Regions from separate parts of the Homo sapiens genome. Here all the other regions are reported to be linked to region 4. The links are microRNA targets in miRTarBase. Many come from high-throughput screens and were not tested one by one. Region 4 holds a microRNA gene; each other region holds the end of a gene's coding sequence. Distances are between the middles of the regions.
What was found. Region 4 holds the annotated microRNA hsa-miR-340-5p (UUAUAAAGCAAUGAGACUGAUU, at 2,100-2,121, shown strand). A microRNA usually pairs through its seed, bases 2 to 8, with sites in the 3' UTR of a target mRNA and lowers its output. Matches are read on the target gene's strand: a 7mer-m8 pairs with bases 2 to 8, a 7mer-A1 pairs with bases 2 to 7 and ends in A, and an 8mer does both.

Region 1: miRTarBase lists TM4SF1 as a target of hsa-miR-340-5p. Seed matches in the 3' UTR shown: 7mer-A1 at 3,970-3,976.
Region 2: the mRNA of MPHOSPH9 is a reported target of hsa-miR-340-5p. Seed matches in the 3' UTR shown: 7mer-A1 at 3,713-3,719.
Region 3: the mRNA of INTS8 is a reported target of hsa-miR-340-5p. Seed matches in the 3' UTR shown: 7mer-A1 at 1,253-1,259 and 7mer-A1 at 1,400-1,406.
Region 5: miRTarBase lists LTAP1 as a target of hsa-miR-340-5p. Seed matches in the 3' UTR shown: 8mer at 3,006-3,013.
Region 6: miRTarBase lists SNX24 as a target of hsa-miR-340-5p. The part of its 3' UTR that is shown has no 7-base or 8-base seed match.

What each region holds. Positions count from the first base shown.
Region 1 is chr3:149,365,512-149,370,865 of GRCh38, forward strand. TM4SF1 (transmembrane 4 L six family member 1) reads right to left here. Exons shown (of 5, transcript NM_014220.3): 5 at 3,511-4,369. The coding sequence ends at 4,355. Among named protein-coding and RNA genes, the nearest start is that of TM4SF1, 9.5 kb to the right of the region's middle.
Region 2 is chr12:123,153,003-123,158,356 of GRCh38, forward strand. MPHOSPH9 (M-phase phosphoprotein 9) reads right to left here. Exons shown (of 24, transcript NM_022782.4): 24 at 1,213-3,906. The coding sequence ends at 3,805. Among named protein-coding and RNA genes, the nearest start is that of PITPNM2, 4.6 kb to the left of the region's middle.
Region 3 is chr8:94,879,687-94,884,954 of GRCh38, forward strand. INTS8 (integrator complex subunit 8) reads left to right here. Exons shown (of 27, transcript NM_017864.4): 27 at 432-2,060. The coding sequence ends at 548. It overlaps CCNE2 (cyclin E2), which reads right to left. Exons shown (of 12, transcript NM_057749.3): 10 at 3,095-3,206; 11 at 2,446-2,603; 12 at 538-2,059. The coding sequence ends at 1,946. Among named protein-coding and RNA genes, the nearest start is that of CCNE2, 13 kb to the right of the region's middle.
Region 4 is chr5:180,013,482-180,017,481 of GRCh38, reverse strand. MIR340 (microRNA 340) reads left to right here and starts at 2,085; the gene lies at 2,085-2,179. All of the region lies in intron 2 of RNF130 (ring finger protein 130), which reads left to right.
Region 5 is chr1:154,203,749-154,209,102 of GRCh38, forward strand. LTAP1 (lipid transport auxiliary protein 1) reads right to left here. Exons shown (of 7, transcript NM_001098616.3): 7 at 2,972-3,900. The coding sequence ends at 3,705. It overlaps CFAP141 (cilia and flagella associated protein 141), which reads right to left and starts at 2,585. Exons shown (of 4, transcript NM_001010979.3): 1 at 2,527-2,585; 2 at 1,850-1,890. The coding sequence starts at 2,559.
Region 6 is chr5:123,007,148-123,012,301 of GRCh38, forward strand. It overlaps SNX24 (sorting nexin 24), which reads left to right. Exons shown (of 7, transcript NM_014035.4): 7 at 535-2,058. The coding sequence ends at 602. LOC124901213 (small nucleolar RNA U13) reads right to left here and starts at 2,493; the gene lies at 2,395-2,493.

The DNA.
Region 1 (5,354 bases), not on the chromosome of region 4:
GAGAGCAAATAATTGATTCTAGGAAGTAACATGAAATCTAGCTCCAGAAAAACCTAGTAGACTTATTTAACTACAATAATTAAAATATGTGTCTAAATTTGCCAGGACTTGCATACACAAACTATTTAATGTTAAGAGAAGGAGGGCCAGGTAGGGTGGCTCACACCTGTAATCCCAGCACGTTGGGAGGCTGAGGTGGGAGGATCACGACGTCAGGAGTTCGAAACCAGCCTGGCCAACATGGTGAAACCCTGTCTCTACTAAAAATACAAAAATTAGCCAGGCATGGTGGCATAAGCCTGTAATCCCAGCCACTTGGGAGGCTGAGACAGGAGACTCGCTTGAACTCAGGAGGCAGAGGTTGCAGTGAGCAGAGAAAATTAAAATAAGGAAAATCCAAGCTGTAGTACACAAAGCCCTGATAAAAAGCCAATGTTCAAAGTAAAGGTATGCCATTTCGTTTTAAAATACAGAAAACAGATACATGGTTGATATTTGTAAAAATCTTACTTGGTGGCTTGTCTAAGAAGAAACTGTGCACTTAACATTTCCCAAACATGCAATTGAAATTATAGGCTCCCCATTATATTTTTAGCCTATGGTTACTGCCAGCCTCACCTGGCCCATCCCTTCACCTAATTGCAGGCATAATTATTCCCCTGTATTTACTGTAGGATGACTCCTCTGTCCAAGCACAAGAACAATGGTTTTCTTACATACCTGGGGAGTTTCCCTTAAAGACTGCGGGCTCCTCCCTGAATTATTTTAGGACTGAATCTTTCTTCTCATCTCATTTTTGTTTTATTTCTAAAAGTAATATGTGCTTATGGTAGAAATTTCAGAAAGTATAGATAAGCGAAATGAATCAAGACAAAAATCACATTGAATCTGATTGAAATTCCTTTTCAGTAATATATTTAAAGGGTATTTATAATATACATATACCTAGTAGAGAAAGACATAGAACCCTTCTTTTCTATATTTTCGAAACTTTCTCTTTCATGTAATGTTGTGCGGTTCATACATTTACCCTGATTTAACAGCCACTGACTACATTTATCAAACCAATTCCTTGTTATCAGAGATTTAGGCTCTTGCCATTTTTCCTGGTGTTACAAACAATACTCCCATAATTATTACTGGAAACTGAACTATTGTGAACATCCTTGATGATTTTCTTAAAATAAATTTCTACAAGTAAAAATACTTGGCTAAAGGATGTGTAGGCTTTATATATTGTAGACACAGATCACCAAATGGCTTTTCTGAAAAGTTGCATCAAATCCCATACCTGTTCTCACCATGGGTAAGCATCAGAGAAAACAATGAAAAAGATCTCACACACATACAAGAAACTCATACTGTGGTAAAGGTAGCATTCTATCAATTGTCTGAGATTTCAGTGCATGAGATTTCCTTTATGTAGGAATGTATTTGTAAATTTGGTCACTATGGTAAATTGACACTCAGAGGCCACGTGTACTATTCAAGTGATTCAGATTCTACAGTAATTTTTATTGTTTTAATGTTGTCAGGTAAGAATGAGCTGTTTTAGTACAACCCCTGAGGGAGTTTCCAGCCAAATTGAAAGGCCTAGAATATTACAAACCAGGAGCGTAGGCTATAAACAGAACTTAAGGAGGGTGTAAGGTAATTTGTGTAAGCTATTTCCTTCAGGTGATGACAATGTCTACTATTAAAAGATTCACAAACAAGGGGAAATGTTGAGTCACTCAAACTTAGGCTCTAGGATAGGGATGACTAAGGCTCTCAGGGGCCTGTCAAAGTCCCCATTAGGTGGGTGGAGTATCTGAGTGCCAGTGTAGGATAGGAGGAAGACTCTAGCCCCTGGGCCCTGGTGGCAGAGCAGGTAGATGAGGCAGAGGAGAGGAGCAGGGAAAACACCGTGTTCATGTTACACCAACTTGGAGTTAAATCAGTGTTGTTTTTTTTTTTGCTACAGTGTTTTTCATTTGCTAAAGATGTGGCCTTGGACAGATTACTTAACCTCACTGAGCTTTGAGTCTATAAAATAGAGAGAAGTAATACCTTCTAGGGCTGCTGAGAGATTTCAGTGGAATAGTATGTGTAAAACTAATTACAATAAGTGACATACTGAAGGGACTCAAGAAATTGTTGCTGTTATTATGATAATGGTTGATAATTATTATTGCTATGTCCTTTGAGGATAGATTTAGGAAAAAATGATGCTTATGACTGATTATTATGCCTTTTATCTTGGATCCTGTATTGCAGGGGTTTTTAATCTGGTGTCCAAGAATTCCCAAAAGACCCCATGGATAAATAACTGGGGGAGTGGGGTGTTAAACTTAGATGGGAAAAAAGTGTCATTTTTTACTAACTTATAACAAAAATTTAATATTTCCTTTAATTATGACTATGCAACAAACCAAAGTAGCATCAGTAATACTGATCATACTTTGATCTACAATAAAAATTTGCATATGTTTTCATATCACATTAAATTTGCTGCAGGTATCTCGAAATATCATTTTAATTGAAATTGTATTTCAAAAGTATGACAGTTAGGGGGCTGGGGGGCAAGGGGAGGGAGGGCAAATACCTAATGCATGTGGTTGATGATGGGTTGATGGGTGCAGCAAACCTCCATGGCACGTGTATACCTATGTAACAAACCTGCACGTTCCGTCCCAGAACTTAAAGAAAATAAAAAATAATAAAAATAAAAATAAATAAATAATAAATGTGCTTAGCATATTGGCTAACTCTGCTCAGTGAAAAAAAAAAAAGTAGGATAGTTCTTAGACCGACTCCTTAGAAGGCTGTTAGGACACACGTTATTGCTATCCACAGGTGTTGACGTGACAGAGCTGGCTGTCAAGACAACTACACTATATGTTTAAAAAAACATTTTCATAAAATATTCTAGTGTATTGGTTTTCTTCATAATTCTATGCATTTTATGAATTTATGAACATTATTCTTCGAAGGTGTCTGTAGGTTTCACCAGCCTGCCAGAGGGACTATGGTACAGAATAGGCTGAAACCTTCAGTCAGGAGCCGCCCACTGCAGGGCAGCTTGCCCATAGGAGGAGCTCTGCTGTCTAATAGCTGGTTATGCTTCTTTATAAATTTGCTTATCTGTTGTCCAGACCAATGAACACCAAAAACGGAACATTTCTATAGAAAATTCCCAATAAGTCCAGGAATCCTGTCACTTGAAAGAGCCTAACCCTGTACAGTAAGGAGAAAAATGCCTGTTACCCTTCCAGGGAGGCTGATACTTGCAGCACCTGGTAGAAAGGACCAGTGCCTAACTGGGGTGATGATCCCACAGGTACAGCAATGGCAATTTACAGACAGCAGAGAAAGAAGAGGAGAAAGAGGATGAGAGAGTAGGATAAAGAAACAAAAAGACAGGAAGCCGTTAGCAATAGGGGCCACATAACTTGCAAACTGGAAAAAAAAAAGGGGGGGGGGGAGAAAAAAGAGAACTTTTAAGGATAATGAAACTAAACAACAACAACATGGTAGTGAATACTTTATTTTGTTGTAAACAAGTTAGTTTTGAGGGTATTTCCTCGTGGTCCTCCTGCCGTCACTCGTCCCCATGTTCCAATGATGCTGATCAACTGCTTTATTCAGTTTCCCATCTTTCTTCTTGCCCAGTCATCGTAGCCTTTCTTTTTTTAAACACATGATCCCTAGTACTCATCTTTGGAGGACAAAAGGCTTTCCATATGTTAGAAAAATTTGAATCTCATAGTACTCACAACAATGAGCAGCATTGTAAGTTGTGATGCATTCATTTGGATTGGAACATTCTCAATCAGTCCTTCCACTCTAAGTAAATATTTGTTTCTCACAGAACACAAGGCAGTTCAAAGGGCCTCTTGTTAGAGATTTATAGGTGTATGAATGGGAAACATCATACAAGCAGTGAAAACAAAAATCTTTCCAGGTTGTCGGATTTTCTCCTTCTTGGTCTTATAAAAAGCAACTAGACATCTTTAATTTAAAAAATACATGCACATATATACAATAGTGATTGGAATGTTATTTTTATCCAAAACATTATAGAGTTTATCTCAGATATACTGAGTACTGTCACTCAGTCTGTAAATTACCCCCAGAGGGTGGTTTGTTTCCTCATTCCTTAAAAAAAAACAAAAACAAATAAACAAACAAAAAAGAAGTTTACTAAATTTAAACACTGACATCCTGTGAAGATGCCAGTCTTTACAGGCGTTTGTAAAAGTAGACTGTGGGGAGTATGTTACACTAATACAAAGTTTTACAAATGAATACAAGTGAAATATATAAATTACAATGAAATAGAGGAAGATTGTGGCTCTGTCCTGGGTTGGTTCTTTTAGCAGTCATATTGCTGTAGAGAAAATAAAATACCATTAGGCTATAATCAGGATAAATAATGATGACATTTTAGTCCTTTAAGTTCCTATTTTAAGCAAACATAAACAGACTGATCTTAGCTTCAGCAAAGCTTAGGCCAACCATACTTAGGGCTTGGACAATGCTCACAAAATGTTTCCTAAACAAACCCAGATCCCTTGTCTTCCATGAGTAAAGGCTGCAGAAAGGGCCCATAGAAACTGCAGGATACTGATATTGGGTTGCTTTGAGTGCATTTGTGTGGGGTTTTAATCTTAGGGATTTAAAAGATAATGCCATGGAAGTTTCACACTGGTATGAGCTCAATGTGGGTAACCTTTCAAATTAAATGCTACCGAGTTATGGACCTGACTCTTCTACATGAAAAGACCTGCCCTTTGAAAGTGTCTTTTGTCTTATAAACAAAGGTAACAGATCTTCCCTGTAGTATCTGGGAAGAAGCCATCCCTACAGTGACTCAGCTGGGAAACCTGGTGTATTTACTACCCCAAATCAGAGGAGAGTATCATTCCCTGCCAAATCACTTCAGCCATTTTGGTCATTGGCTCTTTATGCCTGTCCCCAAAACGTACTAAGTGAGTACATTTAGTACAAGTAATCACTTACTTTGAACTCTGCCTTGTATGAAATTCAAGGCTAAAGGTAAGCTGCATGACAGCAATCCCTAGAGGATACTTCTCTGCCCTTCCCCAACCGTACTGCTTGAAAGAAGCTCCATATTGAAGGTTTCCCATTCCCTTATTTTCTTGGAAATTTGCCAAAGAAATTATTAATCTTGCTATACTTGCCTGATAAGGAAAACTAGATTTTCATTTTAACCTTCCCCCAAAATTACAGAAAGTTTCCTTTTATTTTCAGCAAAGTTTTTCATGGTAGCAATGGGCTTTCAGTTTTCATTAGGTTTTTGTCTTATTTTTAAAAGAAAGTTAACAGATCTGGCACCAGAGGAGTAAATGGTT
Region 2 (5,354 bases), not on the chromosome of region 4:
AAGTAGCGTCCAGCAAAGCACGTGGCTTTTCTGGGCGAGAAGGGGATAGCTTTTGGTTGGCTATCACAGACTCCACCTACATCTCCTAACACCCACTGGCAGGCACTTCCTGTGCATGGTTCTGCCCACAAGCTGTCACCTTTAGATGAAACATTTGAAGGGGCAATTATTTGGAGGATACTGGCAATAATTTTTAGAAAAACAACCTATATTTATACCAAATAACCCCCAAGTCACCAATTAAGACCAAAGTGCTTTCTGAACTTACACGTGACAGGTTATCAAATTTGTTAAATTTTTGGTGGCTAAAAAACCAAACACACCAGAGGGATGCTTAATTTAAACTCCAAAAAAGCTCATTTTTTTGCAAAGCGTGAAGAGAACATCTTAGACCACCTAACAAATGTCAGTCCAAGGCAGTTTTTAGGTCAACTGCTTCGGACATAATCTACTTTTTTATTTCAGAAAGTATGCTACCTCAAGGCTGGGCGCAGTGGCTCACGCCTGTAATCCCAACACTATGGGAGGCCAAGGCAGGCAGATCATTTGGGGTCAGAAGTTCAAGACCAGGATGGCCAACATGGTGAGAACCCCGTCTCTACCGAAAATACAAAAATTAACCAGGCGTGGTATGCACCTGTAATCCCACCTACACGGGAGGCTGAGGCAGGAGAATAGCTTGAACCCAGGAGACAGGTTGCAGTGAGCCAGTATCACACCACTGCACTCCAGCCTGGGCAACAGAACTAGAGACTCCATCTCAAAAAAAAAAAAAAAAAAAAAAAAGGATGCTACCTCAAAAACCTACTTAACTCAATGAATCTGAAATATAATATTTCTTGAGCACTTACTAAGCACCAGGCACTTTACAAAATCTCCCTTAATGAAAGGAGTTTTCTTATTTCATCTTATAGCTGAGAAAGGCAGGCCTGTGCCAGGATGTGACCCAGGTCTCTCTGGCTCCAAGTCTCTCCTTTCTTGTCCCCTGAGCCCAGCTCTGCACAACCCTAGCACGGCCACTTTAGCTACATCTGTTGCTTCAGTTGGAAAAGTCCTTCAGTTGCAAAGACCATTTCCATACCTCAGGAGTAGCTCCTGCAAACAGAGGCTTAGCAAGGGAAAGGAAGGGGGCAGATCCAGGCATCAGGGGAGAGTTCACTTTCTATTTGCATTTTAAAAGGCACTTCCCAGAGGTGGCAGATTTGCTTAGGGTTTTTTTTTTTTTTTTCTTTTTAAACTATTAATACCTGCAGCAAAGCCCCAAGCCAACAACAAAAATAGTTTATACCCGGGGATAATAGCTGCTATTTAGAATTGCCATCTTTCCTGCTTTTAGGTGGAGTGTTTTTTCAGTTGAGTGTTCATAAGATAAGCATTACCGAAGAGAAAGACAGCAGAAAGAACTTTCCTTGGTATCCCTCTTCACAGCTATGAAGAAAAAAGAATACATTTTTTAGAAATAAGTGACTGATAGCTCCAATCTATTACACACTTCAAATATCAAAGCATATGCTGAGAGAGAGGCGCAGAAGATGTTTTGATGGAGGTTAACGCCTTTTTTGGAATAAGCCAATATAGGCTACTAAGAAGATAATTCCTTGGCAAGATAAAACTATCATCTCTTCTGAAATGGCATTTTTTAATTCTTAAGAATGTAGTAGATTTTACAATAAAAGTAGGGAACAAGGAAATATCCTAACAATTTTCAAGTTAGTTTTTAATGTCATATCCAGGAACACATTAAAGGTGGTCTTACTAGGTCTTGACACAAGCTGTACTGGAGCTTGATTAAAATGAACATTTTCTTTACCAAGACTAGATTTTTTTTTTCTAAAGGCTAGAAAACCAAGAATAAAGAATACCAAGAATAGGCCGGGTGTGGTGGCTCATGCCTGTAATCCCAGCACTTTGAGGGGCCAAGGCAGGCGGATCACATGAGTTCAGGAGTTTGAGACCAGCCTGGCCAATATGGTGAAACACCATCTCTACTAAAAAAAAAAAAAAGATATATACATACACACACACACATAGACATATACACACACACAAAATTAGCCGGGCGTGGTGGCAGATGCCTGTAATCCCAGCTACCCAGCAGGCTGAGGCAGGAGAATCGCTTGAACCCGGGAGGCAGAGGTTGCAGTGAGCTGAGATCATGCCATTGCACTCCAGCCTGGGCAACAAGGGCAAAACTCCATCTAAAAAAATAAATAAATAAAATAAAATAAAAATAAAAAACAAGAATAAAGGCACTTGATTCTAATTATAAGTAATTTTGATTAGCCTGAAGTCTTCAAAAGTTGCAGAGTAGGGAGCAAAGGTTCAACTGCACTGTCAGACAGGCCACCCTCCTTGCTGAGAAGGGAGCAGGGCTGTGGACCCCTGGCCTGGGGACCAGCCAGGTGAAGGGTGCTCAAAGGTCATTTGAGAGCCTGCTTGGAATAACTGGGATGGCTTGGTTCATTCTAACTACTTATTATTAAGAGCCACATAAAGAGGAAAAGCTCAAAAGCAAACCAAAATTTAAAACCTGAGCATGTTTAGTACGAATCCATTTTGAAAGTTTGGATGAGTCTGTTTATCAACATGTACCGAGCTGGAATATGTGGGGCACTGCGTTCTGATTGGCTACCAAAAACTAAGTAGTTACACAGCTCCAACTTAACCAGCAGTCCCAACACAAACCTGCCAATGCTCCTGGATCAGAGGAGAGACTCCTGCCCACGTGCTACTTCTGAGAGCCAGCGGCTACCACAGAGGCAGTGGGCTGGAGCCCTCTGCAAGGCCGAGGGGAAGGCACCAGGCTCCATCCGGACACACTCCCTGTCCATTAACAAATACAGTAGATTGTGATGATCTAAAGTCTAGTGTTCTTACAGCACCTACAGTGGAAATATTTTCCTTTTGGCCAGGGTGAAGGAGTGGAAAGGGGTGAACATATCCAGATGACAACTATGACGGACAGCTGAAGCCATGCACACTAAGAAAACCAGGCTGCCCTCTTAATCCCTCACGGGGTGGTGGCTTGTATTTCAAAGGGTTTATCTGTCCATTTATTGTCCAGGGTGGGACACAAGTTAATTCAGAACAATGGGCAGAGAGCTACTCTGAGAGCCCTCCAGAGAGGGCTCTCCAATTGTTTAACTTTTTTAGAAAAGATAAAATTAGAGAATTACAATCTCTCTTTTTTCTCTTACAGACAATAAAGTTTAAAGAAAATGAGTTATATTCATGTAGTTTTCAAAGCTTTCCAAGAGTCCATTATTACTATTCTGATATTCACTCTAAGACACGTTTCAAATACGAATTGCATTATCATTTTTTAAAAACCTCAACACAACTGAAATCCAAGGTACACTGTAATTGTTTATGTATTCAGCATGTACTAGTCTATCATTATGGAAGCTATTAAGCTTTATTTTTTAAAAACTGAATTGTATTTACAATGTAGAACAAGTCTATAAAATTGATGTGCAGTTAATTGTAAAAGGATAACACTATTTGTTTAGAAACAAGCTGCTTCCTCTGTTTATATTTCCTTATTCTTGATATAAATTGGAGACAGATACTATTTAAAAATAATGCTTTTTAAATAGTAAAATATACAAGAGATTCCTGAGCATAACAAAAATATCTTGAAAATATGTGGCCATTTGAAGTATAAAATAGCAAGTGTAAGAATAGCATGATTGTAAAACTACTGTTTGAAGGCTTATAAACAGTACAAAATAGTTTGCCTTTTCTGACTGCATAATTATACATTAGTGCAAACAAAAATGTCTCAAAATTTAATGGCTACAAATCTCAAAGATTTGCAGAGGTGCGCAAAACATGGAATTTCTTTAGCGTCATGCGAACTGAACCCAGTTCTCGATTAATCCTTTCCAAACGATCTTCCAAGGCTTCCTAGGTGAAAACAATGGGAAAAGTTTAATTAGAATTCTATACCAAGTTCTATAATCACCACCAAACTGACCTTTCTTTTAGCAAAAGAGCAAGTATAAACACTAAAATTACAATTATTTTGCTTTCTACACGAAACATCTTATGATTTCTTTTAAACTGGACAATATGAATTAGCTTTTCAACTATTCCAAATAACTGCTGTACTTTAAAATATTCTCAATATGTTTGACACATTGAGTATATGGAAATTCTAGTAATAGCAATACAACCAACTGGAAGAGGATAATTCTTTGGCTCTGCTGAAGTGAGAACAGTACAAGAGGAGCCTAGGAGGTGCTTCACACATTTCACCAGAAGAAATGGACACATTTGATCAGTGCTGCATCCCACACATACATAGATCAAATAACTTTCTTCTCACCAAAATTTCTAAGTTAAAAAGGAAAAAAAAAAAACACTGAAGGATACTTTTCTTAAAAAAAAAAATAGATTTCACAATGAATTAACAATTGCTATTTTAAAATAAACAATATTACTGTTAAATAATACCTGGACTATATATCATTATACATACTTCTGTGTTTTTGTTGAGACAGGGTCTTGCTCTGTCACCCAAAGCTGAACTGCAATGGCATGATCATAGCTTACTGCAGCCTCAAACTCCTGGACTCAAGCAATCCTTCCACCTTAGCCTCTCGAGTATCTGAAACTACAGGCAGGCACCACCACACCTGGCTGATTTTAAACATTTTTTTTTTTGCAGAGACAAGATCTCACTATGTCACCCAGGCTGGTCTCGAACTCCTGGCCTCAAGTGATCCACCCACCTCGGCCTCCCAAAGTGCTGGGATTATAGGCATAAGCCACTATACCCAGCCTCATTTTAGTTAATTTATTCAGTATTAATTCCAATGGTGTCCTGAAATAAAACTTAAAATTTTTTTCTTTAATTATAAAAGGATTATAGAACACTTAGAATATAGAAAATTTAGAAGACAAATAAGCAAAAAAGAAAAAAAAACTGTTCCTCTTTCCTGTTTTTTCTGCATACATATATATGCATACCACTTTTATTTTATTTTTTTTTTTTTGGTTGGGGGAGACGGAGTCTCGCTCTGTTGCCCAGACTGGAGTGCAGTGGCACAATCTCAGCTCACTGCAACCTCTGCCTCCCAGGTTCAAGCGATTCTCCTCCCTCAGCCTCAAAAGTAGCTGGGATTACAGGTGCCCACCACCATGCCCGGCTCATTTTCATATTTTTAGTAGAGACAGGGTTTCGCCATATTGGCCAAGCTGGTCTTGAACTCCTGACTGCAGGTGATCTGATCTGCCCACCTCAGCCTCCCAAAGTGCTGGGATTACAGGCGTGAACCACTGCACCCAGCCGTGTATCATTTTTAAAAGAAAAATAAGGCCAAGCATGATGGCTTACACCTGTAATCCCAGCA
Region 3 (5,268 bases), not on the chromosome of region 4:
CTAGTGTGTATATTTAGTTGGTTGAGGCACTTCTTTCTAATCATGAAAAGTTGAGCAACTATATGCTACCATAGTGCTGAGCCACCAGTTATTTTTGCACATTAACAAGTGGAGCCCTAGTTTAACTCTAAAAATCGCCATGTAGAGCTTACTTATACTTTCAAATAAATTTACATGAATTTACTTAATATATTAAAATGCCACTTAAGTAATTCCATAAACTATGGCTCAGCAGTCCATCTTTCCTTGAGAGTGGCCCTGGTTAATCTTTATGTTAATTTTTTTCCAAGACTCCTGGGTTTTACAGTTAAGAGGTTCAGTTAATCATTAAACTGTATCGTTGTTAGCACGTAGGTAGCTTTATATTACTTGTACCAACAAAACTTAATTTTTGACACACCTCTAATAACATCACTTTTCTGTTTTGGAAGATCAAAGCCATCGGCCAGACAGAGTTGAATGCAAGCAATCCAGAAGAAGTGTTACAGCTGGCAGCGCAGAGAAGGAAAAAAAAGTTTCTCCAAGCAATGGCAAAACTTTACTTTTAAGCAGTTAAATTTTTTTAACTTTTATTTTTTAAACAATGGGCTAAAAATAAACAGTATTAAAAGGTTAAGTTTATATAATACATATGTACACAATTAGTGGTGTTTTCTTTTCAGACAAAATACTGAAACAAATATTAGTTTAAAAACAAACTATACAGAAGACTTCATACCGTAACAATAAATGTATAGTTTCTTCAAAGGGAGAAGAGATTCACATATCTGATAACAAAATAAACTAGCAATCTAGTTTTCTAATCTACTTTATGAGGCTGGATTTTTTTTTTAGAAAAGCTAATTTAAAATATTTAGAAATAGCTAGCCTATGTACAGCAAGTTTTCATGTCTTTTTTTAATAAATAGATTTCTAGGAGTCAGTATATATTTAATACTCTTCTTCCTTAAGAAAATAGAAGTTTAGGTCAAGTGTTAAGCTTTATCACTTTGACACTGTCCTTATCTCACAATGGAGGAATTTAGAAAGGACCTTAACAGTTTCACAAACATAAATAAAGCCTTAGTCACACTAAATTAAAAAAAAAAATTCCTTAGGGATATCTTAGAGTAGTAAAGTGACTTCCTCATATAAATAGTTTGAAAGGGTACTTAAGTTTTTCACCCAAATTGTGATATACAAAAAGGTTATTACCAAGCAACCTACATGTCAAGAAAGCCCCAGTTAGGAAGGAGCCACAGCATTTATCTTGTTTATAATTTCTTTGGTACTCCCACTGTTTAGAGCACAGGTTGAACACCATGTTCATCTAAGCCTTATTAGTTAAAAAATGTGTTATGGCAAGGCAAATAAACTAGTTTAAAAAACATTAAATTTCACCATTTGTAGAAATTCAAGTTTTATAATAGCTTGCTATAGCAGCTATAGATAAATTAGTCACCTTATTACAAAACTAAACCTTTGTAAACAAGTTTAAATTTAATTTTCAAGAACCAAATTGCACTAGTCAAGAGTGTAGGAATTTTGAGAATCTAACAACTAGATTCAAAGTACTGTATCACTTAGTATACCCTTTAAGGTAGCACTTATCCAGTCCAAAACTCCAGTGACAAAATTCCTAGTTTATCAAGATAAACACAGTAACACTGGATTAAAGGAAAAACATTGCTATGGTATAGACTGTGGTTGGCTTCTATCCAGTAACCTTGGGAATGAAGACATCTTTGTAAACAAGTCCTGCTGTTTCTTTAACAGCTAACATAGGAAATAATTAAATGTATTCTTTAGTGCCAATTGTAAGTTTTAAAATCAGAATGGCAGTGTAACTTGTGAATTGGCTAGGGCAATCAATCACAGCACTACTTTCTGTAAAACTTTAGTAGTTCAGTGATACCAGTTCTACCCAATCTTGGTGAATTCCAACTTGTTTGCTTAGTTATCTTCTTTAGTGTTTTCCTGGTGGTTTTTCAGTGCTCTTCGGTGGTGTCATAATGCCTCCATTGCACACTGGTGACAACTGTCCCCCTTTTCTGAAGGTGTTTATGTAATTTACTTCCTCCTATACATGGGAAGAAATCATGCACTGATTTCATAAATCAAAGTCAAACCAGACTTCTGGGTACTTATTTGAGATTATTTAGGCCTAATTTTAATAGTCTTTTTATGTCTTTGCAAGTGTGAAGGGTCATATTCTGAAAGTTTCTGTAACGTTATATATTTTTTAAACTCTTTATCTAGACTGTTGGCATTGATCTTGAGACACTTCACAAATCTTGCTTTGATTTCAAAGTAATTTTATTAACTTTTCTACATTTTGAAATCAGTGTGCCCCTTAGAACTTTCTTTCCCCTGAAACTGCCTGAAGGAGTACTCTATTCCTACCATCAGTTTTGGTGACTTACTAGATTCAGATAGCAAAGCCAAAAAACTCACAAAAAAACATACCAGCATAGCCAAATAGTTTGTATGTGTCTGGATATTATGTCTGTCTTCCATAGGAATCTTCTTAAAAGTCTTCAGCTTCACTGGACTAGTACTTTTTACTACATTGACAAAAGGTACCATCCAATCTACACATTCTGAAATACTGTCCCACTCCAAACCTAGATAGATAGAAAAAAGTTAGAAAAGCATGAAGGTTGTACATCAGAAACTATCTTACATATGTCTGATGTACTTGTTGCTGTTTTTGAGATATTTTAAAAGAAACCAAATCATAACCAAGAAGTTTAGCATGTCAAAACAGATTATCACTCTCAAACTATTTACATGACTATGTTGAAGGGAAAAAGGACTTCAGAACTTCTTAACCAGTACCTTCTACATATGAAATTGAAATGGTCAAATCCCAAAGAACTCTTAAAGCAGAACTATAATGTTGATTCATTTCAACTGTATTTAAATTCCATTTGGTCTTTTTGTTGATACACATTCAGGATTGGAAAGTACTTCTAACAGAAAGATAATTACTGAACAGCTAATTTTTTTTTTGCCAAAGTTTTAAATGCATGTTTAGCAGAATGTTAAAGTTCAGAGACTGTAGTCCCATTAGAAGTTGTGAAAAGGTAAGAAGACAACAAATAGAGAGTCTTACCTGAGGCTTTCTTAACCACTTCAATGGAGGTAAAATGGCACAAGGCAGCAGCAGTCAGTATTCTGTACTGGAACTCTAATGAATCAATGGCTAGAATACACAGATCTAAAAGCTAACAGGAAAAACAAAAGTACAAGCAATTTAGGAGAAAGATGAGTACTAAATGTCTCTTGCTAAAACCTTAGGGATCTAGAGATAAATAAGCCACCACCCGGCCAGGCGCGGTGGCTCACGCCTGTAATCCCAGCACTTTGGGAGGCCGAGGCGGGTGGATCACAAGGTCACGAGATCGAGACCATCCTGGCTAACACGGTGAAACCCCGCCTCTACTAAAAAATACAAAAAATTAGCTGGGCTTGGTGGCACGCGCCTGTAGTCCCAGCTACTCGGGAGGCTGAGGCAGGAGAATGGCGTGAACCCGGGATGCAGAGCTTGCAGTGAGCAGAGATCGCGCCACTGCACTCCAGCCTGGGCGAAAGAGCGAGACTCCGTCTCAAAAAAAAAAAAAACAAGCCACCAACCTGAAGGAAGTAGACAAGGAAGGACTGTTGCAATACAGTGTGACATGTACTAGCAGGAAGGGCACCTAATCCAGATTGGAAAAGATAGTGATGGCCTCAAATTGCCATAAATGGGTCTTAAAAGATAAGGGAGCCAGGAAGAGTAGGAGGCAGAGAATGTTCTAGGTATAGGGACATTACTTGGAACTCAGTTCACAGTTCAGAACTCCTAAGGTGAAAAATAAATAAGGAGTACCTTCATTTCTTATCAAGAAAGATGAGGGGTGGTGGCTAGAAAGAGGCATGGTCTAGATTGGATCACAAAGGGTCTTTAAGAAGTCAGAATTTTATAGGCTGATTCTTGAAGCTACTGGAAGATTTTTAAATCAAAGTTCCATTTTAAGAAAGATACCTTAGAATGCAGTGAAGCAGACAGACTAGAAGAAAACATGTTTATTAAGCAGTGAGATTAGTTAAAAGGCTGTATAATCTAGGCAATAAGAGCTGAACTAGTAGCAGTGGAATGGTATAGTGTAAAAGGGGTAGATTTCACAGATTTGAGAAGATACTTGTGCAGTGGAATTAAACTTCAATTCTGTTTGTCCTCATTGGTCCAGAAGGTAGGAGAAATGGGAGAAGAGCTGGGAATTGGAAGTGAAATATTACTGTTATATACCTCTAGAAAGTCCACATTGTTTATCGGCTTATCAAAGATTTACCATCACTATCAGAAGGGTATAGCTGCCTAGGACAATTTGGGATGCTAGGAATTCTGGATGAAAAAATTAAGCTTTTAATAAAAAGTTTTATAAAATAAACCAATTTCAGTATACTTAGTGGTTATCCAATTTGAGTATTCATAATGTGCTAGATTTAAGCACCACTGCCCACAAATTTTAACCTAGGTGACTTAATAATTATCCCCAAATGTCTTCCATATGTTAGATTTTCACATCCCACATAGAATAAGAGGGTAGATTTTCTTCACTTTTGTTATATGGCAGATACAGCAGCCTTAAGATTACTTACGAGAAGTAAGCAAGAAAGAATGGGATCTCCTCTTTTTTTTTTTTTTTAATTTTTTGAGATGGAGTCTTGCTCTGTTGCTCAGGCTGGAGTGCAGTAGTGCGATCTCGGCTCACTGCAACCTCCACCTCCCAGGTTCCAGCGATTCTCCTGCCTCAGCCTCCCAAGTAACATGTTGGCTAGGCTGCCTCAGCCGCCCAAACTCCTGACCTCAAGTGATCTGCCTGCCTGCCTCAGCCGCCCAAAGTGCTGAGATTAGAGACCTGAGCCACAGTGCCCGGCCAGATCCTCCTCCTCCTCTACTTACTTACTTTGTTAAATATGCTAGCCTGGAAAAGTTTACTTTGAATTTATGTTCTAAAAAATTTTTTTAACAAAGTAATTTTAATTCTGATATTTAACTTGATAGGCACTCTGTGTATCCAAATGTAAAGACATCATACAGAATAATTCTATGCCATTATAAAGCTTAAACACAACTGGCGAAAAAAATGCTTTTCCCCATTTTATATCAAAAAGAGATACTTTAGTTTGGACTCCTAAAGAATGAAAGTACTCAGAAAAGTGTAAGGACTTTGTTTTTCTAGAAATATTAAGCAACATAAACACTGGGGACAGAACTTTATGCGTCAAAAGTTTTGTTCTAGA
Region 4 (4,000 bases):
CTGAGAGCATTGAGTGAAAGGTTTTTGGGGAACTGGCTAGTCACACAATCTGGAAGTATCAGCCCACAGATTGCTTATTAATTAAGAGGAAAACATTTATTTACAGTGAGGAAACCTGGCAGATACCAAAATAACCAAGTCATAAAATTTGCCACCAAAAATAAAGGTACAACCCGGCCTGCACTTCCTGAAGTGACGAGCTGAGGAGGGACACGCCATCACCTTGTGGTATTCTTACTAGAAATATTTAATTTGGAGATCTAATCATTAGGAAACAGTCAAATCCAGATTGAGGGGCATGGTCAGAACATCTGGATTGGACTCTTTAAAAAGGTCAGTGTTGTGATGAATGGACCGGAAGTGACTGAGGAACTATTCTAGATCAAAGGAGACTAATGAGACATGACAGCTAAGCATGATGCCGACAGCCCCGATTGAATCCTGGACACAAAACTAAACAAGTTAAACAGCTATTAAAGTCATCACCACAGATACCTGAAAATGGACCATCTATTAAAGAACACAGGGTTAAATTTCTTGAGGATAAGTAAATGAATTGTGGCCACGTAGCTAGCCTTGTTCTTAGGAGGGACCGTGGAAGTATTTAAGAATAAAATGTCATGTGTTTGCAGTTTACTCTTAATTGGTTCAGCAAAAATAAATACATATAGAAAGGACAAAATGTTGACAAATCTAAATAAAAGGTCCATGAGTGTTCTCACAGTATTGGAACTGCTCTATGGGTTTGAAAATTCTCAGGATGAAAGTGGAAAGAATAGAATTGTTTATTAAAGTAGCCAGACTCAAGCAGTGTGGAAACAGAAGTTCCTGTTAAAGAATAACAGTGGGGGAAGTTTCTCAAGAAAATAGTTGGAAGCAGGGATCACAGATGGGCTTTCACTGGATTGCCATCTCTGACAGTTAGTACTGGCGGCCAGACGTGGAAGTGCGTGGGAGCGTGGCCGCATCCGTGACTTACTAGCAGTGTTTGCCCAGGGCCTGGGACATGGGAGTGGTGGGGCATGTCCCAAATGTGCTTTGATATTTACAGCGTTACAGTCTAATTATTCTTCACTCTTTTCAGTCACTGCCTCCTCTGACCGGCCCTTTATTGTGAAGCCTACATTTCCTTTGGCGTGAAACTGGGCCAGAGCTCCTCAGATCCTTAAAAGTCAAGTGTCTGAGGCAGCTTTAGGTCAGGGTCTTTGAGCCCTATCAGGCTTTAGGGGTGGAGTATGGGGAGAAGGCCCTTTCTCCTAGGAGGGGACTCCTATATAACTTTCGCCAGATTCTGTAAAAGATTTAAGACCTAAAACTCCAGTCCTTTGCAAGTTGGTGGCGGGCTTTCGTTCTGCTGTCCTCCTGCCCGATCGGCAGGGTCGGGCTCCTCTGCCCGGCTCTTCTCTGTGCTGGTGTAATGACGCCACCGCGAGCGGCTTCTCTTCCTAGTCCAAAAGGTTCCCCCTTTGCTCCTGAGGGCGTGTGGATTTTTGCATCAAGAGCAGGTAATTTTCTACTCTCTTTAAGAGGTGAAAGGAGCCTGATCATAGTATGTGCTCAATAAATATTGTTGAATGGATGGTTGAAATAATTACACACTTCTTTTCCCAAACAGCTTTCCCGTTGAAATTAGTTGGTGTTCTTATTTAGTGTTCTTTGAATAGAATCACATGGATTGGTTTCCTTGGCTACCTGTTCAGCTTTCCTTTCCCTACTCCTTTCCCTACTCCTTTCCTACTCCTTTTCCTACTCCTTTCCTACTCCTTTCCCTACTCCTTTCCCTACTCCTTTCCTACTCCTTTCCCTACTCCTTTCCTACTCCTTTCCTACTCCTTTCCCTACTCCTTTCCCTACTCCTTTCCCTACTCCTTTCCCTACTCCTTTCCCTACTCCTTTCCCTACTCCTTTCCCTACTCCTTCCCTACTCCTTCCCCTACTCCTTTCCTACTCCTTTCCCTACTCCTTTCCTACTCCTTTCCCTACTCCTTTCCTACTCCTTTCCCTACTCCTTTCCCTACTCCTTTCCCTACTCCTTTTCCAGCTTGAGTCTTCAAGAGGGAGCCTCAACTGATTTCTAAAACCGTTTGTACCTGGTGTGATTATAAAGCAATGAGACTGATTGTCATATGTCGTTTGTGGGATCCGTCTCAGTTACTTTATAGCCATACCTGGTATCTTATACCACAGATCATGGCCCGTTGAACAACATTTTAAGAGATTTCTAAAGGGAAATTTAAAGCGGTTTAGCATTATTTTGTGATTGTCTCTAATTTACTGATCACAACTCTTATTTCAGAAAGGTAATTAGATATTAATTAGATGTTTATTGCTTGCTTTAATTTTATAGTTTTTTGTAGATTTTTAATCGGTATTCTGGTAAACTGCTGTTCTAATAAAGTGGCTGTAACAATTTTGAGTAAGGTAGTAAAAAGGTATATGTTCCATTGGGTTACATTTTCCATAAAACTCCTTTTACTGTTGTATTTCTCTTCTTTTTTTTGAGGGTCTTGCTCTGTCACCCAGGCTGGCGTGCAGTGGCGTGATCTCAGCTCACTGCAGCCTCAACTTCCTGGACTCCAGTGATCCTCCCACCTCAGCCTCCTGAGTATCTGGGACCACAGACATGTGCCACCATGCCTAGCTAATGTTCCTGTTTTTGTGAGAGACAGGGTTTCACCATGTTGCCCAGGCTGGTCTTGGACTCCTGAGCTCAAGCAATCCACCTGCCCTGGCTTCCCAAAGTGCTGGGATTATAGGCATGAGCCACCACGCCCAGCCCTGTTGAATTTCTTTTCAGTTGCGTGTAGTCTTCTGTGACTGCATGTAACACAAAGATGGTTCTTTTAGCTAAATATGGTAAATGAAACATGTAAAACCAAATATTTCAATGTGTTATTCATTGAAGAAGGATTGAAAAGGACAAGTTTTGGGGACTTCTGCTTGATTGTTTTGTTGGTTTACATTGATATGTACAAACCTTATTCAAATTCAAATAAGTGGTTATAATTTTCTCTTTCCCAAAATAAAATATTTATTTCCCTTCTAATGACCCCTAGTCTCTCTCAGGGGCTCTCTGGAGAAGGCAAATGTAGAAGCTACATGTTGCCACCGGCAGCTTCAGCTTATGAAAGGACAATCGCTGATAGATTGATAGAAGTTTCTCTGTTTCCTTAAAAGACAGTGGGAAGTTATTTCCTTTGTGGAGGAGGAAAGGGATAGCAGTTTCCTGCTGTCCATAGGAAGAGGTATTCAATTCCTTCACTGTTACTACTTCTGGAAATTATGTAGGGGAAAGGTCTAGGTAACTATAAGGCAACTTAAGACTGTCCTCGTAATTAACTTGCATAGCCTGTGCTTGTGGGCAGACCTCTGGACAACTGTTAGAGGCTGGAGGTATTTCGATGCCAAACTGGTCCAGAATGTTGAAGCCTGGACCTGTCTCTGGAACGTTTGATTTCCAGAAGAGTTCTGGGGTAAACTAGCAAGGAGCCTCAACTCCACTCAAGTCTGGACATAAGACCCAAGTTAGTTTCAGATGTCACTAATAAAAGGTGGCACCATTTGGCACTTTGTAGCTCTGTTACCAGCTGTGTGTCCCCTGTCTCAGTGAGATTAGAAAGCTTGGTATCCTGTACTTGTTTTTGTTCCTGGCACTAGTTCTACAGACAGTGGGTACTCCATGAATGTTCCTAGATTAGTGCAAGAAGTACCAATTTATGCTATAAAAACAGCACTTTACTCCATTTCTTAAGGAATTAAGACTTTCTGAAGATCATTTTAAAATAGAAAAGGTTTTACAGTGTAAATCTACCATGATGTTGATACACTTCTCTTGCTGTATAATGTTATGTTGCTGTCTGTTGTCACATTTGGCTGGTTTAATAATCTTTTTTTAAAAATGTAGTTGTCAGACAAGTTAATATGGTTCTTAACACTGCAGTCGTTCTATGCCTTATGTCTGTTTAAGTCTTAAGTACCACACAACAAATTACATGTTCCT
Region 5 (5,354 bases), not on the chromosome of region 4:
ATAAACTGGGAAGTACATCTTCTTTTTTAAAAAACATGTAATCAGGCCGGGCGTGGTGGCTCACGCCTATAATTCCAGCACTTTGGGAGGCCAAGGCAGGCCGATTACTTGAGGTCAGGGGTTTGAGAACAGCCTGGCCAACATGGCGAAACCCCAACGTGGTGAAACTCCGACTCTACTGAAAATACAAAAATTAGCCAGGTGTGGTGGCGGGCACCTGTAATCCCAACTACTCAGGAGGCTGAGGCAGGAGAATTGCTTAGACCCAGGAGGCGGAGGTTGCAGCGAGCTGAGATCGTGCTACTGCACTCCAGCATGGGCAACAAGAGCGAAACTCCATCTCAATAAATAAATAAATAAATAAATAAATAAAAGCAATAGTCATGAACATTCTTGTGTATGTACCTTCTAGTGCTTTTCCAAGTATGTATATTTAAGATAAATTCCTATTTTTGCCAGTTCAATGGATATGTAAATTTAAATTTTGATAGATTTTATCAAACTGCCTTTGTAAACATGGCTGTATCAACCTAGACTCCTATTAAAATCATATATGTTCTTGTTTCTTCACATCCTTGCTAGCTCTGGATATAACCCGTGAAACCTTAAAAAAAGGCTTCTCCTATCCCATTTCAGACCACTTTTATCAGAATCTCCTAGGGTTAAGAACTAGGCATCAGTGCTTATTTATTTATTTAAATTAAGTTTTTTGGTAGAGATGGGGGTCTTGCCATGTTGCCCAGGCTGGTCTCGAACTCCTGAGCTCAAGCAATCCACCTGCCTTGCCCTCCCAAAGTGCTGGGATTACAGACATGAGCCAATGTGCCCAGCTCATTTTGTTTTGTTTTGAGACAGGGTTTTCCTCTCTCACCCAGGCTAGAATGCAGTGGTGGCATCACTTGACCTGAGCTCAACTGATCCTCCTGCTTCAGTCTCCTGAGTGGCTGAGACTACAGGCATGCACCACCACACCTAGCTAATTTTAATTTTTTTGGTAGAGACAGGGTTTTCCTATGTTGCCCAGGCTGGTCTCGAGCTCCTGGGCTCAAGCAATCCCCCTGCCTCGGCCTCCCAAGGTGCTGGGATTATAGGTGTGAACCACCATGCCAGGCTTGCATCAGTGTTTTTTTTTTTTTTTTTGTAGAGACGGAGTCTTGCTCTGTCACCCAGGCTGGAGTGCTGGAGTGCAGTGGTGCGATCTTGGCTCACTGCACCCTCCGCATCCTAAGTTCAAGCAATTCTCCTGCCTCAGCCTCCCGAGTAGCTGGGACTACAGGCGCACACTACCATGCCTGGCTAACTTCTTTTGTATTTTAGTAGAGACAGGGTTTCACCATGTTGCCTAGGCTGGTCTTGAACTCCTGAGCTCAGGCAATCCTCCTGCCTCAGCCTCCCAAAGTGCTAGGATTACAGGCGTGAGCCACCGCGCCCGGCTGCATCAGTTTTTTCAAAAGTTCATCAGGGTGAAAAGGATACGTAGCCCAGTCTTGTGAATCTTCTCATTCACTGGTTCAACAAATACTGCACTACCAACCACATAATTAGTACAAAGCCAGGCAACAAATACTTGAATTCTTGATAAAAAAAGAAAATAAAAACATGCTTCAATTTTTCTCCAGAGAATGAGGCAGGGGACAATAAAAACCAATCTATATCACCTAACCTAGTAGGCACTAAGAGGCTGATCTCATTTGCTTTGAGGACAAGGCTGCTTCTCACCCCTTCCGCATCTGTTTTCCTCTTGATGAGCCCCTAAAGAGATGCAGCAGAGTTGGGAGGTGGCTCAGGGAAGACAGCAGAGTGGAAAGGTCAAGCTCAAAGGTAAAGGGAGGGGATAGAAGCAGATTACCTGTCGACCGTCTTCTTAAGTCCCATGGCCTTTTGAAAACTCTGCAAGAAAAGGTAGTTCTGTTGATCTGCCTCAGTCTCCAGAACCTCTATTCTAATGAGAGACATAGACCTTTTTTTTTTTTGAGACAGAGTTTTGCTCTTGTTGCCCAGGCCAGAGTGCAGTGGCGTGATCTCGGCTCACCGCAATCTCCGCCTCCCGGGTTCAAGCGATTCTCCTGCCTCAGCCTCCGAGTAGCTGAGATTATAGGAATGCACCACCATGCCGGGCTAATTTTGTATTTTTAGTAGAGATGGGGTTTCTCCATGTTGGTCAGGCTAGTCTCGAACTCCTGACCTCAGGTGATCCGCCCACCTCAGCCTCCCAAAGTGATAGGATTACAGGCGTGAGTCACCGCACCCAGCCACATAGACCTTTTTGAGAAAGCAATTTCCTGGGGGGAAATAGGGAGAGGAAAGCTCTACTTTCAGAATGGATCAAAGAAAACACGCAGGGGTTGGATAGAACACATATTTGAATACCTACTGTGTACTAGACACAGCCTCCCACTCCTGTTACTAACTACATTATACCCTTGTTACATCAAAAGCCTTTCCCAGTAAAAGATGCACTTATAGTAAATTGATCTGGAAACTTCATCAAACTTCAACCCAGCCCCTCCTTCCAACTCTGCATACCTCTTCTACTTTTGTCATCTTTTCCACAGACATGTCTATAGATTTGCTTGATACAGTCTGAGGAGACTGACAGGCTCCTCTGTTTAGTTCAGTAACCAAGGTTTCAGTAGTCATAGTAACATTTACACCTCCAACAATAACCCTGGGCCTAGGAGTTGATTGGCCACCTGGCCTGTTGCCCCAGAAACCTTGAGAGAATCCTTGTTCTGCAGCCTTCTGTTGGTGACACAGGCATCTATGAGCAAGGGCCACAGTCCTGATTTTAGGATTTCTTGTGCTAGGGTCCCAAGGAGTATGTGTATGGTCGTAGGTCCAGGGTATGCACACAGTCCCACCAATTCTCTGGAGGCAAATCCTCATGCCCTATACCCTGTTAGAAATGTGCAGATAACATTATCAAATGCCTGTTTTATTAAAAGACAACTATAAAGGACTGATTCATACGTTTTATTTGATAATAGTTCATTTTATTAAATAATTTATAAAGTCAGACCAGTGCATTGGGCTTGTTAGGGGAAACCATTCCTTCCTACTGTCACATAGCCTGGCAGATTATATCAGGTGCCAAAACATTCCCTTTTATTCAATTTATTAATGAGAGTGTGGAATTAAAGTAGATCCTTGCATGTCAGGAAAGCTGCAACACATCTGGTTTAAGTGGAGCACAAAGGTAAGTTATTCCACATTCACCAACTTCCCCACTTGACCTCCCACCAGTTCCTGTCTGCTTTTTCCATCAATCAACTCTAAGATGCCCTAAACCCAAACAGTTCCCATTCAACTGTGCACAAAGGTATAGATATGGAAGACATCTCACTCCAACTCTCACCTTTGGAATTAAATAAACCTGGAACAGGGAAGGTGAACTATGGCTGAAACCAAGTGAAGATTTTTAAGAAGCTTTGACAGAAACATTAAGAATAACACCTGAATGCAAATCCAGAAAAAAGCGCTACTGGGGGAAAATAGTCTTAGCCAATGTTCTAAAAATGCTCATAAGGAAGGGTTGGGGAATTACCCTTTAGACACAAGCTCTAAGAACTCTGGATACAACGGGAACTTGGATGGATACAGTCTGGGCCTGCTGGGCCAGATGTTCCGAGGGCGGCCCGGCAAGCAGCCTGTCTTGCACATTGCAACTGACTGGCTTAATCTACGGCAAGAGTCCTTCAGCTCCGTCACAGAGTACTCTCCAATGTGTTATAGTTATCCTTAAAGCTCTTCAATTCAAGGAAGTGCTTGGCACGTTTACTCTTCTGACTGGAGGGGAGGTATGTCACCTGGATGGTTGTTGGGGAGACCTCAGGGGACTGAGTTAGGTCTTTGGCTGCTGACTGGTGATGTCGCTGAGAGCTCCCAATTCGTGCTTTAACCCTGAAGAACAGAGAGGGGAGGTCATTGACAGAATGAGGACTAATCAAAGAAATCAGGGCTTATCCCAGGCCATAAATGCAGCAATAGTCACAAATAGTTATTTGTGTCCTATCTGTCCTATTTTGTAAACTAGTTACTAAAACCCCATCTAGTAGCTTAGAAATACAAGAGGCTGAGCGCGGTGGCTCACGCCTGTAATCCCAGCACTTTGGGAGGCCCAGGCAGGTGGATTGTTTGAGGTCAGGAGTTCGAGACCAGCCTGGCCAACATGGTGAAACCCTGTCTCTACTAAAAATACAAAAATTAGCTGGGAGTGGTGGCGGGTGCCTGTAATCCCAGCTACTCGGGAGGCTGAGGCAAGAGAATCACTTGAACCCAGGAGGCAGAGGTTGCAAGCCAAGATTGCGCCACTGCACTTCAGCCTGGGTGACAGAGCAAGACTCCATCTCAAAAAAAAAAAAAGTAGCAGAGAGGCTGGGCATGGTCACTTATACCTGTAATCCCAGCACTTCAGGAGGCAGAGGCCAGAGATCGCTTGAGCCCAGGGGAGTTTGAGACCAGTCTGGGAAACAAAGTGAGACCCTATCTCTGCAAAAAATTAGCCAGGTATGGTGGCAAGCACCTGTAGTCCTGGTTCCTCAGGAGGCTGAGGCAGGAGGATCGCTTGAACCCAGAATTCGAGGCTGCAGTGAGCCATGAATGTGCCACTGCACTCCAGTCTGGGCGACAGACTGAGACCCTGTCTCTCTCTCTCACACACACCCTAAAAAAGTAGCAGCACTCCAGCCTGGGTGACAGAATAAAGGCCCTGTTTGGGTACCCTGACACACACCTACTCATACCAAAAACAACTAGCAGCAGAGAAACCAATTTCCCAGAGTTCTTGCCTCTGGCTCAAGCTTTTTTTTCAGAGACAGGTATCCCCAATATAGGTATCACCTTGTTTTGCAGATTAGGAAACTAAGGGTCCAATAATTAGCTTGTATGAGGTCACAAAACTAGTTAAGTGACAGACCTGGGATTCAAACCTAAGTTTGTCAGATTTCAAAGCCTATACTCTTCACTAAACCCAATGAACATTCCTAGAAACTACAAATCAAACATAATTTTTTGTTTTTGAGATGGAGTCTTTTTCTCTGTTGCTCAGGCTGGAGTGCAGTGGCACAATCTTGGCTCACTGCAACCTCTGCCTCCTAGGTTGAAGCGACCTGTCTCGGCCTCCCGAGTAGCTGGGGATTGCAGGTGCATACCACAATGCCCAGCCAATTTTTCTATTTTTAGTAGAGACAGGGTTTCACCATGTTGGCCAGGCTGGTCTTGAACTCCTGACCTCAGGTGATCCACCCGCCTCAGCCTCCCAAAGTGCTGGGATTACAGCCGTGAGCCACCATGCCTGGCCTTCAGAAATAATTTTTAAAAAGATTGTGGTAAAATACATGTAACATAAAATTTAC
Region 6 (5,154 bases), 57 Mb from region 4:
CTTCTGTTGGAAATTTGCCCTTTTAAGTTAGGAAGACTGACCCCCATCTTACTGCTCTCTTTCGAAGCTAGTCTAATGGAACAAGTAGACTCAGGACAACTTGGACTAAATGCACTGTAAACCACAATGGAAAAACTGCAGTGAGGTATTCCCAGTAGAAATCTTGGAATTCCTTCAAGTATATTGAGATTTTGTTAGAAATTGAATTGCCAGTGTAATCCATCTTCCTTTTGAGAAAACATTCAGATAAAGAGCTGAGGCCTAGCAGCATTAACTGTTAGAACATCCCTTAAATCAATAAGCTACAAATCTGGCCGCACATTCCTGCCGCGCCTGGTGGTGTGCTCAAGTGGCTTTAGGCTGAAGCAGCATGACTGATAGCACATCCTCAACCAGGCACATGCCTGGCGATGCAGATTCCTGTGTTTACCGTAAGCATTGCCTTGTTCCATTCTACAGAATGCAATTATATTTTGTTTCACATAAGAAAAGCAGTTTTTCTTTTTTTTTTCTTTTTTTTTTTCTTTTTTTCAGATTTTCCAAATGTGGTTATTGAAGGAGTCCTCCATGGGATATTTTACCCTCATCTACAGCCCAGGTAGAAATCCTACATGGCTAAAAGAAGCAGAAGCAAGTTTCGAAGTCACAGTCAAGGAAATCAATACCTACCAATTTAACCTAAACGCTATGATATATAACAGCTCTAGCTAGTGGTAAAGTGCACAGTCCCAGCTTAATTCAGGGCAGGGACATTTCCATTAGAATGGTGCTCTTAAAAATAGAAACTGAACCGGGGCGGTGGTCAGGCTAAGGCCAAGTGTTTAAGAAGTAGAGTGTAGCTGCCAGCGTAGAAACCCATGAAAAGGAGGCCACAGGAGATTCCTGGGAGCACTGGGTGTAGCAAAACAAAGCCACTCTCTGCTTCAGTCGCACCATTTGCTAATTGAAAATCATATCCTGAATCATACTGAGACTGATCAACTTTGGTAGCTTTTTTGTTCAGATCTTATGACACACTACTCTTCTCACCGTGAGATTTTCTCAGCCAGTGATAGTACATTCTGAAATGCTGGCACCAGGAGACGGCCACAGACACACACTGCTAAATGTGAAGATGGAACTAAACTGGAAATTAAATTATACTGACAATATTATGGCATTTTTAAGATCATGGCATTTTAATTTACATTAGAGTGGAGTTGCATCATACTCAGGGGTTAGCTTCCAAGGTCAGTACATAGGTAAAATGGGCTATTAGGATGATCCTTGAAAGCCCTTTAGAAGGGTGCCATGTTGGAAACCTGTACATCCACAACAAGTAGCTTTTCCTCCTATGTTGGAAAAAAAGACTGTTTCTTTGTTTGAAGACCAAGTGAAGTTGTTGGTGTTTGTTTAGGGGCCATTTTGTTAAAAAAAAAAAAAAAAAAGCACATAACTTTTAACACTAGAATCAGCCCGCAAGATGCTTGCCCCGCTAGTGGCAGATGTGAACTGACAAGGAGTGAAGCGCCCACCCAGCGGATGGACAGCACCCACCTGGGTTTACTCAAGGGTGTGCATTCATTTTAGGTGGGATCGCCACAGGATTTCATGTTATTTTCCTTACGGCTTCCTTTTCACTGACCTCATTTGTTGAGTTAATGTAAGTTAAATGTGTTTATGATATAACTCCACTGTACATCATCCTTTGAGTAGTAAAGGATAAAAGCATATATACTACCTATATGTATGTGCTGTATGTGGGCATTTCATTGAGATCTAATTAATAGCTAGCCTATTTATGGTTATTCGTTTTAGTAAGTTCTGTGGGAGCAAGGTATTTAAAATCAAAACTAATAACTACATCATGGTTTTTGATTAGGATCTAAATATTCAGGTTTTAAGCCTGCTGCAAACTTTTAAAATATTATGATAGATTCTGTACTACATGTGGGAAACAAGCAAGAACTAAATAATCAAATGTTGTCAACCAAAAGTAATAGTTGGGTATTGGAGATTTTTTTAAAATGTTTTTATGTTATTAGCTATTTGGAGTTAAATAAAAACAGAACAAGGAAACATTTGAGTTTGTCTTCTCCTAAGATTTCACTGGAAACATGGTTTGTATCTGTCTGTTTACACACACACACACATATGTGCACACACAAAACCTCTCACACATTCACATAGATGTTTATTTCTAATATGATAAGATAAATTATTATAATAAATTATCTCATCTATTAAGTCAGTAGATGTTCATTAAATATTTGATGATTTACCAAGATAATAAGAATTTTTTTGAAAAAACCAAGTATCTATAGTGGTACACTGCCCAAGAAATCTTTTCTGAGAATTAAGTTTTTTCTTAGTGATGACTTTCGCTTTTTATATTTATGTAAATTTTATTTCCCATGTCAAACAAGTCATATGCAGACATCATAAGATTTGCAGGAGGCACACCTCACAAGAGTGGGAAAACCCAGTCATCACACTTATGCACTACACAAGGATCATATCTATTTAAACTTTTAATGTGTAATTCTGTCAGGGTTATTGAAGGAACTAGAAACCAGTGTAGGTCTTTTACGCAGAAAAGGCTATAATGCTGAAAACTGAATGCTTACAGAATCTGTTGGAAGGGTGAGAGGAGTGCACTCCTGGTAGGTGTCCAAGAACAAATTCCAGAATGCCCCAGCAACTTCTAGCACTGACCTGCCTGGGGAGCTACAGCCTGTGCTGTAAGCAGGAATACAGGGAGTTAGGGGGCTGTGAGCGAAGCTCTTGAGGTAAACAGCATGAGAGCTGCAATCCAGGGATCAGCAAGTAGAATCAAAAAGGACCTGTTATCTCCATGAGATACGGAGCTCCCAGGAAATATAATGGCGATCTCTCTATGAGGTGCGGCCTCATAGCAGCACCCAGGAAGCTGGTGACTGGGCCTGCATCACAATTGCCTATCAACATCCGTGGCCTTGCTTGCCAGCAACCACAGCCCAAAGTGGCAGGAGGATGGTATTCGCCCACTCCCACCTCCCACTCCATAGCTCCCTTCAACGCACATCCAGTTTGTAGAACCTTATTCTCCATCCCAGGTGCAGGGAGTCTGGGAAGAAGCTGCTAGCCTTCTACAGCTCAGGAATGCACATGGGAAAGATGATGGAACTTTTTTTTTTTTTTTGAAGACGGAGTCTTGCTCTGTTGCCCAGGCTGGAGTGCAGTGGCACAATCTCAACTCACTGCAACTTCTGCCTCCTGGGTTCAAGCATTCTCTGCCTCAGTCTCCTGGGCAGCTGGGATTACAGGCGCATGCCACCACGCCTGGCTAATTTTTGTATTTTTAGTAGAGACAGTGTTTCACCATCTTGGCCAGGCTGGTCTTGAACTCCTGACCTCGTGATCCAACCACCTTGGCCTCCCAAAGTGCTGGGATTACAGGCATGAGCCACCGTGCCCAGCCAGAACATATTTCCATCATTTCCATGGTTGAAAATTTAATAAAAAATATATAAAACTATAGATAAAAAATAAATTTGTCTCCCATCTCATCTCCTAATACCGAATTCCCGTTCCACAGAAGGGAGTACTTAATGTGTCTGTACTTAATGTGTCTACTTTGAGTAATATTTCATCTACATACAAGCAGATATTGTATGTTTAGTGTACATATATTTAATTTCTCCTCTTTTACAAAAATGGTAGCACGCAATACCCATTGCTTTCTATTTTTTTTTATTTAACAATATCTTGGCAATCTTTCTGTATCAGTATATAAAGTGCTATTCTCTTTTTAAAAAAAAAAAGCTGTATGGATCTTCTATAATTTGTGTAACCACTACCATATTGATAGACATTTTACTTTTCGATTTCACTAGGCATGCCTGGCCCATATTGCTCTACAGGTTGTGCATTGCACAAGTCCAAGCAGTGTCATTCACATGGACCACAGTGTTAATAGTATTCCAAGTCATGCTTGGAACCCTGCACTTGGGGAAATATCAAAAACTTTAATCATTCAAACCATGGATTCACAGGCAATAGAGAAGTAAAGGACAGAGAAAGGAAACCAGAGGAAGGAAAAGGAAAAAAAAAATCCCATTACCACTTAAGTCAGGATGTGGGGACATCATTTGTCCTGCCTGGTTCCTGGACTTGGTGTTTTGCCTGGACTGTCTTCGATGCTACCTTATGCAGTGCCTCTCAGGCCTCATCTCTGCCTACTCATTCTGCATATTGGCAGCCCTCGTGTCCTTTCTCCTGGTGTCCTTGTTACTGCCCCCATTACAATCAGCCATGTGAACAACCCCAATATCACCATGACCATCAATACCTGGTAAATCCTACAGTTACAGTTATAAGTTCCCATTGAAAAGAAGTTGAGCTCTCTTAATCAGTTTAGAGAAATATGATCACACTTTTGAAATAACAGATGGTTTTCATCTCATTTGTCAACTTTGATCGATTGACAATGGCTGCTTGAAGTGCTGCATCAAGAAGAATTCTGGCACACCTGTGAGGATGGCTACTATCAAAGCAGAAAATAACAAGTGTTGGTGAGGAGGTGGAGAAATTGCAACCCTTGTAACTGTACATTGCTGGTGGAAGTGTGAAATGGTTGCAGCCTCTGTGGGAAATGGTATAACTTCTTCAAAAAATTAAGCATTGAATTGCTATGTGATTCAGCACTTCCACTTCTGGATATATACCTAAAAGAAGAAAGCAGGGACTCAAACAGCTATTTGTATAATGATATGGTTTGGCTGTGTCCCCACCCAAATCTCATCTTGAATTAATCTTAGTTCCCATAATCACCACAGGTCGTCAGAGGGACCTGCCAGGAGGTAATTGACTCATGGGAGCAGTTACCCCCATGCTGCTGTTCTTATGATAGTGAGTGAGTGCTCGTGAGATCTGATGGTTTTATGAGGGGCTTTTCCCCCTTTTGCTTGGCACCTCTCCTTCCTGCCATCATGTGAAGAAGGATGTGTTTGCTTCCCCTTCTGCCAAGATTGTAAGTTTCCTGAGGCCTCCCCAGACATGTGGAACTGTAAGTCAATTAAACTTCTTTCCTTTATAAATTACCCACTCTCGGGCAGTCCTTTATAGAAGCATGAGAACGGACTAATACATATATTCATGTTCATAGCATATATTCATAGTAGCCAAAAGGTGGAA